4 linked regions of the Homo sapiens genome follow. The protein of the gene in region 1 interacts with the protein of each later gene in a pairwise test. Each region holds a gene or a part of one and is shown in the gene's direction. Other genes may lie near its edges.

Evidence for each region. Proteins that work in one complex are often made in the same cells at the same time.
Region 2: the proteins of PACSIN3 (region 1) and RAF1 interact in a two-hybrid assay, tested with the Homo sapiens proteins (one study listed by BioGRID).
Region 3: the proteins of PACSIN3 (region 1) and TNPO2 interact in binary tests that used the Homo sapiens proteins (3 or more experiments, as listed by UniProt).
Region 4: the proteins of PACSIN3 (region 1) and CLNK interact in a two-hybrid assay, tested with the Homo sapiens proteins (one large-scale study listed by BioGRID and IntAct).

The regions. Positions count from the first base shown.
Region 1 is NC_000011.10:47,180,229-47,183,434, reverse strand, and holds part of PACSIN3 (protein kinase C and casein kinase substrate in neurons protein 3), read left to right. Parts: intron 1-365; 5' UTR 366-431; intron 432-625; exon of another isoform or gene 626-632; coding exon of another isoform or gene 633-707; coding exon 708-761; intron 762-875; coding exon 876-1,032; intron 1,033-2,744; coding exon 2,745-2,980; intron 2,981-3,093; coding exon 3,094-3,206.
Region 2 is NC_000003.12:12,654,118-12,657,617, reverse strand, and holds part of RAF1 (RAF proto-oncogene serine/threonine-protein kinase), read left to right. Parts: intron 1-3,500. UniProt on the Homo sapiens protein: Serine/threonine-protein kinase that acts as a regulatory link between the membrane-associated Ras GTPases and the MAPK/ERK cascade, and this critical regulatory link functions as a switch determining cell fate decisions including proliferation, differentiation, apoptosis, survival and oncogenic transformation.
Region 3 is NC_000019.10:12,717,433-12,720,932, reverse strand, and holds part of TNPO2 (transportin-2), read left to right. Parts: coding exon 1-54; intron 55-1,596; coding exon 1,597-1,672; intron 1,673-1,754; coding exon 1,755-1,904; intron 1,905-3,500. UniProt on the Homo sapiens protein: Probably functions in nuclear protein import as nuclear transport receptor. Serves as receptor for nuclear localization signals (NLS) in cargo substrates.
Region 4 is NC_000004.12:10,566,269-10,569,768, reverse strand, and holds part of CLNK (cytokine-dependent hematopoietic cell linker), read left to right. Parts: intron 1-3,500. UniProt on the Homo sapiens protein: An adapter protein which plays a role in the regulation of immunoreceptor signaling, including PLC-gamma-mediated B-cell antigen receptor (BCR) signaling and FC-epsilon R1-mediated mast cell degranulation.

The DNA.
Region 1 (3,206 bases):
CCAACACAGAAGCCAGGCCTCTTGGTTCCCTTCGTGCCCTCCTCAGTACAGGGAGCTACTGGGATGTGGCCAGGCACCCTCTGACTTGGCCTCTCGGGTAACAGGGTTGTCTTGTCACTCAAGGGAAGGCAACAGAGGCCCTAGCCTGGGCAGGAGTCCTCTCATCGGCAGTTGGGGGAGTGGGGCCTTCTGCCCACCGCCCACCCCCGCCTGCCATTTAATCCCTGGCTGGATCGTGTGACCTGCCTGGCATTCTCCTCCCTGGAATCCGGCGCTTCTGACAGCAGTTGCTATATTGGGGGTGCCGGGCACCGCCCTGGACGCTCTAGGCCCCCACCCTCACCCCCGCTCTGTTCTCCTTCAAGGCAGAGTCACGGTGGCAGCATTGAGAGTTGGACACCCGGGTCCTTGAAGTGATCTCTAGGCCCCAGGTATGTGGGGGGGCGGGGGGGGAAGTGCAGAGCAGTGAGAGGAAGAGCTTTGAGACTCCATCCTCACCCATCCTGGCCCTTCTTAGGGTCTTCAGCACCCTGCCTGCTAAGTCCTAGCTCTGATGACTCCTTGGGTGGTGGGGATGGCAGTGGGGCGAGGCCCAGGTATAGAGAGGGTCTTTTCCTATCCCCAGAAACATAATGTCCAGCTTTCCTGCTTACCCCTCTGCCCTCCACAGCCCCAAATCCGCCACCATTCCGTGCTGCGGGGACACCATGGCTCCAGAAGAGGACGCTGGAGGGGAGGCCTTAGGGGGCAGTTTCTGGGAGGTGAGCAGCTGGGTCCTGGGCTCAGCTACTTGTCTAGGGGAGGAGCCCATCTGACAGCCCCAGCCCCAAAGGAAGCTTCTCCCTGGTGATGGCACCCTTTTCCTGTATGCCCAGGCTGGCAACTACAGGCGCACGGTACAGCGGGTGGAGGACGGGCACCGGCTGTGCGGGGACCTGGTCAGCTGCTTCCAGGAGCGCGCCCGCATCGAGAAGGCTTATGCCCAGCAGTTGGCTGACTGGGCCCGAAAGTGGAGGGGGACCGTGGAGAAGGGTGAGCCAGGCCCTCGCAGGGGGCAGAGGGCAGCTGAGTGCAGGACTGTCGGGCCAGCTTCTTTTTGCACGTCTCGTGGGAAGTTTGAGGCCTCCACGTCTACCCTCCCTTAGAAAGGGAAGATCCTCCTGGTCATCCTCATGGCTGTGGTGTTATTAAAGTTTATAAAGGATGCTCATGAGTTACTTTGATAGTTGCAACAACCCTGTGGAGATGGTTGTTTTACCCATTTTCTTTCCTTTCTTTTTTTTTTTTTTTTGAGACGTTTTGCACTTGTTGCCCATGCTGGAGTGCAGTGACATGATGTTGGCTCACTGCAACCTCCGCCTCTCAAGTGGTTCTCCTGCTTCAGCCTCCCAAGTAGCTGGGATTACAGGCACCCACCACCACGCCTGGCTAATTTTGTATTTTTAGTAAAGACGGGGTTTTACCATGTTGGCCAGGCTGGTCTCAAACTCCTGACCTCAGGTAATCCACCCACCTCAGCCTCCCCAAGTGCTGGGATTACAGGCGTGAGCCACTGCATCTGGCCTTCTTTCCTTTGTTTATTATTTATTTATTTTGAGACAGGGTCTCACTCTGTCACCAGGCTGGAGTGCAGTGGTACAATCATGGATCACTGCAACCTCTCCCTCTCCCACGCTCAACTGATCCTCCCACCTCAGCCTCCTGAATAGCTGGGACCACAATAGCTGGGATCACAGGCATGGACCACCACACTTGGCTAATTTTTGTATTTTTTGTAGAGATAGGGTTTTGCTATGTTGCTCAGACTGGTTTTGAACCCCTGGGCTCTAGCGGTCCTTTCTCCTTGGCCTCCCAAAGTGCTGAGATTACAGGCGTGAGCCACCGTGCCCGGCCTGGATTACAGGCATGAGCCACCGCACCTGGGCCTGTTTTATGCATTTTCTAGAGGAGAAACTGGAAGCTCAGAGAGGCTAAGGGACTTGCCTAAAGGCACACAGCTAGGAAGTGCTGAAGGTTGAGCCCAGGCCCTCTGACTGGGAGCATGGATCTTTCCACCCTGCAAGCTGTCTTCCTCGAGGGCACACACAGGCTCTTCCTTTGAGGCAATGGAGTGTAGTGTTTACACAACAGAGATGGGTTTGAATCTCAGCTCCTCTTTTTTTTCTTTTTTTTTGAGATAGAGTCTCGCTCTGTCACCTAGGCTGGAGTACAGCGGCGTGATCTCAGCTCACTGCAGTCTCCCCCTCTCGGGTTCAAGTGATTTTCCTGTCTCAGCCTCCCAAGTAGCTGGGACTACAGGCGCCCGCCACCATGCCCGGCTAATTTTTTGTAGTTTTAGTAGAGACAGGGTTTCACCGTGTTAGCCAGGATGGTCTCGATCTCCTGACCTTGTGATCCACCCGCCTTGGCCTCCCAAAGTGCTGGGATTACAGGAGTGAGCCACTGTGCCCGGCCCTCAGCTCCTGTTGTAGCCATAATGCTTTGGGCGAGTTCACATCTCTGGTCCTCAGTGTTTTGCCTGTTCAATGTTGGCAATGTCGCTGTCCTCACGATGGTGGCTGAGACAAGGAGTCAGTGAGATAAGGCACATGGTCCTCATTCAATAAGCCCAGCTGACAGGGTTGTCATTCACCTTTGCACCCCATGCGCGTACCCCATGCCTCCATGCCTCACACCCAGTGAGAGGGGCTAGGCTCATTTTGGGTGGTACCCAGGCCTGGCCTAAGCCCTGTCCCTCCCTGCAGGCCCCCAGTATGGCACACTGGAGAAGGCCTGGCATGCCTTTTTCACGGCGGCTGAGCGGCTGAGCGCGCTGCACCTGGAGGTGCGGGAGAAGCTGCAAGGGCAGGACAGTGAGCGGGTGCGCGCCTGGCAGCGGGGGGCTTTCCACCGGCCTGTGCTGGGCGGCTTCCGCGAGAGCCGGGCGGCCGAGGACGGCTTCCGCAAGGCCCAGAAGCCCTGGCTGAAGAGGCTGAAGGAGGTGAGGCTGGGTGGGGGAGGTATCCGAGACAGGCTCCTTCCTGTTTGTTTGCAAGGGATCGAGGGGGCCAAGGTGTGGCATCCAGGGTCCAGAGTGGTCTCCATGCATGCCAGGTTGAGGCTTCCAAGAAAAGCTACCACGCAGCCCGGAAGGATGAGAAGACCGCCCAGACGAGGGAGAGCCACGCAAAGGCAGACAGCGCCGTCTCCCAGGAGCAGCTGCGCAA
Region 2 (3,500 bases), on another chromosome or scaffold:
GTATTTTTAGTAGAGATGGGGTTTCTCCATGATAGTGAGACTGGTCTCGAACTCCCGACCTCAGGTAATCTGCCCACCTCGGCCTCCCAAAGTGCTGGGATTTACAGGTGTGAGCCACTGCGCCTGGCCCCTGCCTGGAAATTCTTAAGAATTAAATATTATTTTCTTTGAGTAAGTAATAATGTCAGATGTCACAAAATTTAAAGGATATAGAAAGTTATGTTGTGCATAGTTATTCTACGTTCTCCTTTGTTCTCTAGCTACCCAGCTTCCTTTCACAGAGGGAAATGTGAATTCTTATGTATCCTATTTTGTGACGACACAAAAATATTTAAGGGTAGATGTGCTGGCCTTACTTTCTTGCTCAAATCTTCCAGGCTCTCCCTGGCTACCAGACTAAGTATATACAATTCTTGCTTCTGTGTCTTGCTCACATGGCTTTCTCATAGTAATAGTATGTTTAGTGGAAATCAAAAGCCAGTATTTTTAGGCCCCTGTAGGTGCAGGCCAGTGCACTTGGTGCAGCATAAGGCAAGTTCCTACCTTCAAGGACCTTATCTAATTGAGAGAGGCTGACATTTCCTTACTTTTATCTATTCCTCTTTTTTTTTTTTTTCCCCGAGATGGAGTTTCACTCTTATCACAAAGGCTGGCGTACAGTGGCGTGATGTTGGTTCACTGCAACCTCTGTCTCCCGGGTTCAAGTGATTCTCCTGTCTCAGCTTCCCAAGTAGCAGGGATTACAGGCATCTGCCACCACGCCCGGCTAAATTTTGTATTTTTAGTAGAGATGGGGTTTCATGATGTTGGCCAGACTGGTCTTGAACTCCTGACTGCAGATGATCCACCTGTCTCAGCCTCCCAGAATGCTGGGATTACAGGTGTGAGCCACCGCAGTGGCCAAGTTGAATTTCTTGTATAGATGTCTTATGTCTCAGTTTAAAAATGAGGCATGTCTTACTCTTGCCTATATATTTCCAGTGGGGCATGTCTTATCCTTTTTTATATATCTCCAGTTCTCAAAACCTTGTCTTACACAGCAAACATTAATCAGAGGTTAATCACTTATGGATTTAGTTTCACTCTACTGCCATCTCTCCAAAATGCTTACAGTAAAGAGGCTACACTTACTAAATTCAAACTTAGAACTTTGTAACTTAGGACCTGTCTGTTGGAGGAGGTAAGTTGCTTAAGCTTCTCCCTCTATTGGGCATTATATGTAGAGTGCTCTAGGTTCTGCCTGCTAGCTCCTTGATGACATTTGCCTGCTTTAGCAGGACACTGACTCTTCAGCTCAAGCAGCTGTTACCATGCTGGCTATTTCCTTTTGCATTCATAGGTTTTAGATATGGAAGAAAGTTATACCCAGAGAGAATGGGGGGATAAATGATAATCTTCTACCATTTTTGACCTTAGTCTGGTCCAGCATTATAGTGTGATTTTGAGAGGAGAGATTGTGATTTCCCTGGCTAGTATTATCTAGTATTGCCTGACAATGCAAAATGGACCCCTAGGCTGTCTTATGTAAGTTGGAAGGGGGCGGATTGGGGGTGGGGTGTGTGTGTGTGTATCTACAATCCAGTGACATTTAACAACATTCACAATGTCTTAAAACCATCGCCACTACTCGTTTCCAGAACCTTTTTGTTACCTCAAACAGAAACAGTACTCATTAAGCAAGAACTCCTCATTCCTCCCTATGCCCAGTTCCTCGTAACCCCTATTCTACTTTCTCTCTATGAATTTGCCTATTCCAGGTACCTCATGTAAGGGGAGTCATACACTATCTGGCCTTTTTTGTCTGGCTTATTTTACTTAGCACATTTTTGAGGTTTATCCATGTGGTGGTGGCATGTATCTGTATTTTATTCCTTTTTATGGCTGAATAATATTTCATTGTATGAATATATCATTTTGTTTATCTCCTCATCAGTGATGGACACTTGGATTATTTCCACCTTTTGGTTGTTGTAAATAATGCTGCAGTGAACATTGGTGTACAAATATCTGTTGGAGCCCCTGCTTTCAGTGCCTTAGGGTAATGCACAGGAGTAGAATTACTGGATCATATGGTAATTCTGTGTTTACTTTTTGAGGAACTGCCAAACTGTTTTGCACAGTGACTGCACCATTTTACATTTCCCACCAGCAAAGCACAAGGGTTCCAGTTTTGCCACATCTTTTCCAACACTTGTTATTTTTTCTTTTTTAATTTTTAAAGTAACAATCTTGGGCTGGGCACGGTGGCTCATGCCTGTAATCCCAGCACTTTGGGAGGCCGAGGCGGGCGGATCACCTGAGGTCAGGAGTTCGAGACCAGCCTGGCCAACATGGTGAAACCCCGTCTCTACTAAAAGTACAAAAAAAATTCGCTGGGCTTGTTGGCGCATGCCTGTAATCCCAGCTACTTGGGAGGTTGAGGCAGGAGAATCGCTTGAACTCGGGAGGCAGAGGTTGCAGTGAGCTGAGATTGCGCCATTGCACTCCACAAGAGTGAGACTTCGTCTCAAAAAATAAATAAATAAAATAACAACCCTAATGACTGTGAAGTGGTTGTAGGCTTTTTGCATTTTAAAAAATTATTATTTTTACTATTTTAGAGATGGCGGGGGGGGGGTCTCACTATGTTTACCAGGTTGGTCTCGAACTCCTGGCCTCCATTGATCCTCCCATTTTAGCCTCCTAAAGTACTGGGATTACAGGCTTGAGCCACTGCGCCCAGCCCTCCTTTTCTTCTTATTGCTACTTAGATGTAATGGGCAAACCAGAACCTTTGAATTTGGCTATATTTGGATCTGATGGGTTTTTTCCTCCCTCTTAAACTTGTGTATAATGTTGTTCAAAGGGATACATTATGTACACAATTAATGACATCTTTTTAAAAAGAACACTTTCTTTCATCCTTGTGAGGTGTAAGAAGAAAAATAAGCAAAAAAAAAAATGAATAAAGTTTTTCTATAAGTTGATACACACAGTTGTAGTTACTTTATACTCATACCCTTTTTTTGTGTTGTGAGTGACACAGTCTCACTCCATTGCCCAGGCTGGAGTGCAGTGGTGCGATCTCCACTCACCGTAGCCTTGACCTCCCAGGCACAAGCCATCTTCCCTCCTGAACCTGCTGAGTAGCTGGGACTACAGGTGTGTGCCACCACACTCAGCTAATTTTTGTATTTTTTGTAGAGATGGGGTTTTGCCATGTTGCCCAGGCTGATGTCGAAGTGCTGAGCTCAAGTGATTCTCCCGCCTTGGCCTCCCAAAATGCTGGGATTATAGGCATGAGCCACTGTGCCTGGCCTCTCATACTTTTTTATTCTATAATGTATTTAGGGCCAGCCTCTGTGGCTCATGCCTATAATCCCAGCACTTTGGGAGGCCAAGGAGGGAGGATTGCTTGAGGCCAGGAGTTCAAAACCAGCCTGGGCATCATAGTGAGACCCCATCTCTAAAACCAAAAAAACTAGTCAGGCATGTGGTATGCGCCTGTAGTCCCAGCTACT
Region 3 (3,500 bases), on another chromosome or scaffold:
CTGCTCAAAGACTCACAGTCGCCCAACACAGCCACTCAGCGCATCGTGCAGGATGTATCCTTCCTTCCTTCCGGGGCTGGGGGAGCCGGGTAGATGCGTGCAGTTTCCAAAGGCCAGAGAGAGAAAGAGAGGGACTGACTCCCCTAGTCCCCAGATTTTTTCTGCTGTGCGGAGGATCTGCCCTGGACAGAGAAGGATTACAATTCCTGGGTCCCATTTCCAGAGCTGCGGGGATTGTTATAGAAAATGATGAAAATTCCTAATGTTCATCGAACGCTAGCATCTACTCCATTAACTATTAAAGTAGGCCCTGGCCCAACGGGGTGGCTCATGCCTGTAATCGGAGCACTTTGGTAGGCCGAAGCAGGTAGATCGCTTGGGCCCAGGAGTTTGAGACCAGCCTGGGCAACATAGGGAGACCCCATCTCTACAAAAAATACAAAAAATAGCTAGGTGTGGTGGCATGCACATGTAGTCCCAGCTACTTGGGAGGATGAGGTGGGAGGATGGCTAGAGCCCAGGAGGTAGAGGTTGTGGTGAGCTGAGATTGTGCCACTGTACTCCAGCCACCCTGGGCGACAGAGCCAGACCCTGTCTCAAAGAAAAGATATATAGGCCAGGCGCGGTGGTTCACGCCTGCAATCCCAGCACTTTGGGAGGCCGAGGCGGACGGATCACCTGAGGTCAGGAGTTTTGAGACCAGCCTGGCCAACATGGAGAAACCCTGTCTCTACTAAAAATACAAAAATTAAGCCAGGTGTGGTGGCAGAAGCCTGTAATCTCAGCTAATTGGGAGGCTGAGGCAGGAGAATCGCTTGAACCTGGGAGGCGGAGGTTGCAGTGAGCGGAGATCGTGCCACTGCACTCCAGCCTAAGTGACAGAGTGAGACTCTGTCTGAAAATAAATAAATAAATATTTAAACCATGAGCATGACTCACCCCAAAATTTGGATTCCCTCTTTTAAAAAAAAAAAAAAAGTCTTCATGGCCTGTTAGTGGGGATCGCTGACTAGTAGCTGCCACTTTAAGAGGAGTGGGATTCTCCTTCCCTCTCCTGCTCTGGCTGGGTCTTCAGGAGTGGATGGGAAACTCAGACATTTCCACCCAACTCCTTGTATGATTTTTTTTTTTTTCAAGATGGAGTCTTGCTCTGTCGCCCAGACTGGAATGCAGAGGCGCAATCTCGGCTCACTGCAACCTTCACCTGCTGGGTTCAAGCGATTCCCCTGCGTCAGCCTCCCAAGTAGTTGGGAATAGAGGCACGCACACATCATGCCCGGATAATTTTTTTGTATGTTTAGTAGAGATGGGGTTTCACCACGCTGGCCAGGCTAGTCTCGAACTCCTGACCTTGTGATCCACCCGCCTTGACCTCCCAAAAAGTGCTGGGATTACAGGCGTGAGCCACCGCGCCCGGCCCCTTATATGAATTTGACGTGTCTGAGGTGCTCTGTGTCATTGTGGGCTTATTAGGGAGCGGGATCCCCCAGGAGCTGGCAGCCTGGTCCCAGTGGTCAGAGATAGTGTCAGGTACATAATGAGGGGACCTGGCTGGGGGAAGGCCTCTGTCTTCCAAGTCCCTTAACAGCCTGGCAGAAACTCAAACAACTCAATCAGTTTCCTGACTTCAACAACTACCTGATTTTCGTCCTGACCAGACTCAAGTCAGAAGGTACGCCCTCTGCTCCCTTCCATGCGATCGGGACCCTGCTTTCTCCCCCTGGGCCCCTGAACCTCAGCCTTCCTCCTCCCAGATGAGCCAACGCGCTCTCTCAGTGGCCTCATCCTCAAGAACAACGTGAAGGCACACTATCAGAGCTTCCCACCCCCTGTGGCAGACTTCATCAAACAGGAGTGTCTCAACAACATTGGCGATGCCTCCTCGCTCATCCGAGCCACCATTGGTGAGAGGGGCAGCGGGGGTTGGCCTCTGAGGACACACTGAACTCTCACTTCTCAGCATGTTAAGTGTAGTGCTTCATGGAATGCTCTGGCACCCTCTATGGTAGTACTATTACTATTGCCATTTGATAGATGAGGAAGCTGAGGCGCTGAGCTATTAAGGGACCTGTCTGGGTAAGCAGCAGAAGTCAGAAACAGCTGAGGCAGTGCAGGGCCACGCTCTGGAACCACTCCCTCCTGAAACAGTCCTTCTTGGCTCTGAGACAGTCATGCAACATCTAGAATTTTGTGTTCGGCCTTGGGCTGAGTGCTAAGGGTATAGCAGTTAAAATAATGCAGGTATTCATGTTTCAGGTGCAACGGAATTAGGTTTTCAGCAGAGCCTTTTCTGACTCTTGGAAGGTGGCCTGAGGAAGTTACAGAAAGATGACTAAGAATAGGCTCACGCCTGTAATCCCAGCAACTTTGGGAGGTCAGGGTAGGCAAATCACCAGAGGTTGAGTTCAATACCAGCCTGGCCAACATGGTGAAACCCCGTCTCTACTTAAAATACAAAAAACTTAGCTGGCCAGGCATGGTGGCTCACACCTGTAATCCCAGCATTTTGGGAGGCTGAGGTGGGCGGATCACAAGGTCAGGAAATCAAGACCATCCTGGCCAATGTGGTGAAACCCCATCTCTACTAAAAATAGAAAAAATTAGCTGGGCGTGGTGGCACTCGCCTGTGGTCCCAGCTACTCGGGAGGCTGAGGCAGGAGAATCACTTGAACCCAGGAGTTGGAGGTTACAGTGAGGCGAGATGGCGCCACTGCACTCCAGCCTGGCAATACAACGAGACTCCATCTCAAAAAAAAAAAAATTAGCTGGGCGTGGTGGTGAACATCTATAATCCCAGCTACTCAGGAGGCTGAGGCAGGAGAATTGCTTGAACCCAGGAGGCAGAGGTTGCAGTGAGCCGAGATTGCGGCACTACACTCCAGCCTGGGCAACAGAGCAAGACTCCATCTCAAAAAAAACTAAATAAAATAAAAACAAAAAAAATGACTTCTGGCTGGGTGTGGTAACTCACGCCTATAGTCCTAGCACTTTGGGAGGCCAAGGCAGGCGGATCACTTGAGATCAGGAGTTGGAGACTAGCCTGGCCTACATGGTGAAATTCCGTTTCTACTGAAAATACAAAAAATTACTTGGGAATTACAGCTGGTGGGCACCTGTAATCCCAGCTACTCGAGAGGCTGAGGCAGGAGAATTGCTTGAGCCCGGGAGGCAGAGGTTGCAGTAAGCCAAGATAATGCCACTGTACTCTATCCTGGGCAACAGACTGAGATTCCATCTCAAAAATAAAAAGTAACTTTTAGTCCTGCAAAAACCCCCTCCCAGGCCAGTAGTAGGATGTGGACTTCCTGAGCTCATTCTATGTGCCAGGCTCTTTGCTAAGTCATTGAAACTTACTGATCCAGGCTGAGCACAGTGGCTCACGCCTCTAATCCCAGCACCTTGGGAGGCTGAGGCAGGTGGATCACCTGAGGTCAGGAGTTCGAGACCAGCCTGGCCAACATGGTGAAACTCTATCTCTACTAAAAATACAAAAATTTGCT
Region 4 (3,500 bases), on another chromosome or scaffold:
AGAATGCAAGATCAAGAGTCATGTCTGTGCTTACACATAACATGATGCCGGCTGCAGATTTTAATGCGGAGGAGCACATTCCAGAATTCCTATAATGACCATTGTGTGTGAGTGCATCTGTTGCAGACTGGTGTCCATTCCTGCCAGTCTAGTGTTCAGACCCAGAGCCTTTGATAGGTGCCTGTGTTAGTCTTCTAGTGTTGCCATAACAATATGCCATAAACTGGATGGCTCAAACAACAGAGGTTTATTTTCTCATGACTCTGAAGACCAGAAGTCCAAGACCAAAGTGCCAGTAGGGTTGGCGAGAACTATCCCCTTGGGATGCAAATGACTACCCTCTCCCTGTGTGCTCACATGGCCTTTCCTCAGTGTGTGCATTTGGGGACGGGTGGGGAGAGAGAGGGAGAAACCCAGAGAAAGAGAGAGAGAGAACTCTCTGGTGTCTCTTCTTATAAGAACACTAATCCTATCAGATAAGAACCCCACCCTCAAATGTTGTGCAGTACCAATGGTCTGTAACCTGGTCTCCTGGCTCCATTTCAGGAATGGAAAAATGACCAAAAAAAAAAAAAAAAAAGGGCAGTCTTGGCCAATTCACTTGGGGAGGAGGTGGCTGGGGGAATATGAACCCACAGAATTTTCTTGACTATACATTTTACCTAAATTCTCACACCTAAACCTGATCGAATGAACTAGAATTTCAAAAATGATGGTGTCAGCTTTAGCACAAAATTTCACATTGCAGTTGCTTTTACTGTGATAGTGTCACATTTTAAGACAATATACAGAGAGTGGTGTCACTTCTTGAGGCCCCACCCTTCACAGTAAAGACCCAAATAATTGCATTTGTTTTCCATTGCTGTGATGTCACATCCCCACAGATTTGGCAGCTTGACCATTTATTATCGCACAGTGGATGCAATCAGAAGTCTGGGCACAGCATGGCTCAACTAGTTCCCCTGTTCTGGGTCTCACAAGACTGAAAGCAACATGCTGGCAGGGCTGCATTCTCCTCCAGGGGCTCTGAAGAGGAACTTGCTTCCAGATTCTTTCGGGTTGTTTCATAGAATCCAGTTCCTTTCTGTTGTAGGACTGTGGTCCCCATGTCCCTGCTGGCTGGCTGTTGTCAAATCCTTCTACTCTTGGACTCCTCTATCTAAATTGTCCTTCTGCCAGATCTCTCTTTCTTTCTTGTCTACTTCCTTTCTCTGACTTCCTCTTCTGCTTTTTAAAACAGGTTTTTCTGAGATAAAATCTACCTGCCATTCAATTTACGCATTTTATGAGTACAATTTAATGGTTTTTTTGTATATTCACAGAGTTGCATAACCATCACTCCAATCAATATATTTTTATCATCTCAAAATGAAACCCAGTCCCCCCTTCCCCCAGACCTTGGCAAATATTAATCTACTCTTTATCTATAGATCCTCCTCTTCCAGACATTTCATATAAACAGAATCATGCAACATTCCATTTTGTATATGACTCCCTTCTTTCATTTAACGTAATATTATCAAGGCTTATCCATGTTATAGCATATATCAGTACTTTACTCGTTTTCATTGCTGAATAATATTCCATTGTGTGACTATACAACACTTTATTACCTATGCAGTAGTTCATGGATACTTGGGTTATTTCCACTTTTTTACTATTAAGAAAAATACTGCTATAAACATGTGCTAGTTTTTGTGTGAATGTGGAGTTGCTGGATTATATGGTAGCTCTGTGTTTAACCTTTTGAGGAACTGCCAAAGCATTTTCTGCAGCAGCTGTACCCTGTTACATTCCCATCAGCAATGCATGAGATCCTCAAATTCTCCACATTCTTGTCAGCCCTGATTATTTTCTGTCTTTTTTTAAATCATCTTGGTGTTGTATGGCTGACATCTCATTGTGCTTTTGAGTTGCATTTTCCTAATGGCTAATGATATTGAGCATCTCTCCATGGGATTATTGATGGTTTGCATATCTTCTTTGAAGAAACATCCATTCATATCCTTTTCCCACTTTAAAATTTGGTTATTTATCCTTAGATCATTGCATTGTAAGAGTTTTTCATATACTCTGGATTTAAGCTCCTTATCAGATACATGATTTGCAAATATTTTCTTCATTCCACAGTTGCCTTTTTATTTTTTGTGGTCTTTTGAAGCACACAAGATTTTCATTTTAATTAAGTCCAATTTATCTATTTCTTTTATTGCTTGTATTTTTTTGTTCTATCTAAGTAATCATTGCCTAAGCCAAGAAATGAAGATTTACTCCAATATTTTAAGGGTTTTATAGTTTTAGCTGTTAAATTTATATTCAAGGCCCATTTGCACTTAATTTTTGCATATGATATAAAAAAGAGGTTCAGCCTCACTGCCATGCATGTGGATATCCAGTTGTCCTAGGACTATCTGTTGAAAGACTATTCTTTCCACCCATTGTATTGTCTTAGTACACTTCTTAAAAATCAATTAACCCTCAGTGTGAAGGTTTATTTCTGGACCCTCAATTATATTCCAATTATCCGCACATCTATCTTACTACCAATACCACATTGTCTTGATTACTGCATCTATGTAGTAACTTTTGAAATAAGTGTTAGTCCTCCAACTTTATCTTTTTTTTTTTTTTTTTTTTCCCAAGATTGTTTTGGCTATTCTTGGTTCTTCTTATTTTCTTAAGAATTTTAGGATTATCTTGTCAATTTCTGCAAAATAAATCAGTGTGTTAATTTGCAAAGTATTTCTATTTTAACAAGATTAAGTCTCCCAATCCATGATCATTAGTCATCTTTCCATTTATTTAGGTCTTCTGAAATTACTATCAACAGTGTTTTTGCAGTTTTCAGTGTACAAATTTTGCACTTCTTTTGTTAAATGTATTTCCATATATTTTATTCTCCTTGATGCTATTGCTAATATAATCGTTTTCTTTTTTAAAACATTTTTGTACAGATGAGGTCTCACTCTGTTGCCCAGGCTGTTCTCAAACTCCTAGCCTCCAGCAATCCTCCTACCTCAGCCTCCCAAAGCGCTGGGATTACAAGCATGAGCCACCGCACCTAGCCCATTTTCTTAATTTCTATTTTCAATTTGTTATTACTAATTTATAGAAATATAAATTGTCATTACTAGCATATAGAAATACAACTGAATTTGGTATATTAATCCTGTATCCTGCCACCTTGAGGAATTATTTATTAGTTCTAATAATTTTTTAGTGAATTCTTCAAATACAAGATTATCTTATTTGCAAGTAAGTCCTCTTTCTGCTTCTAAGGGTTCATGTGATTACATTGGGCCCACCCAGGTAATCCAGGACAATCTGCCTATTTTAAGGTCAGCTGATTAGTGACCTTCATTACATCTGCACTGTCCCTTCACAGCAGTACCTAGATTAGTATTGATTCAGTAACCAGAGATGAGAATATTGGGAGATATCTTTAGAATTCTCACTAGCACAAGAATTAAACTTCTATTTAAGATCCCAGACCCTAGATT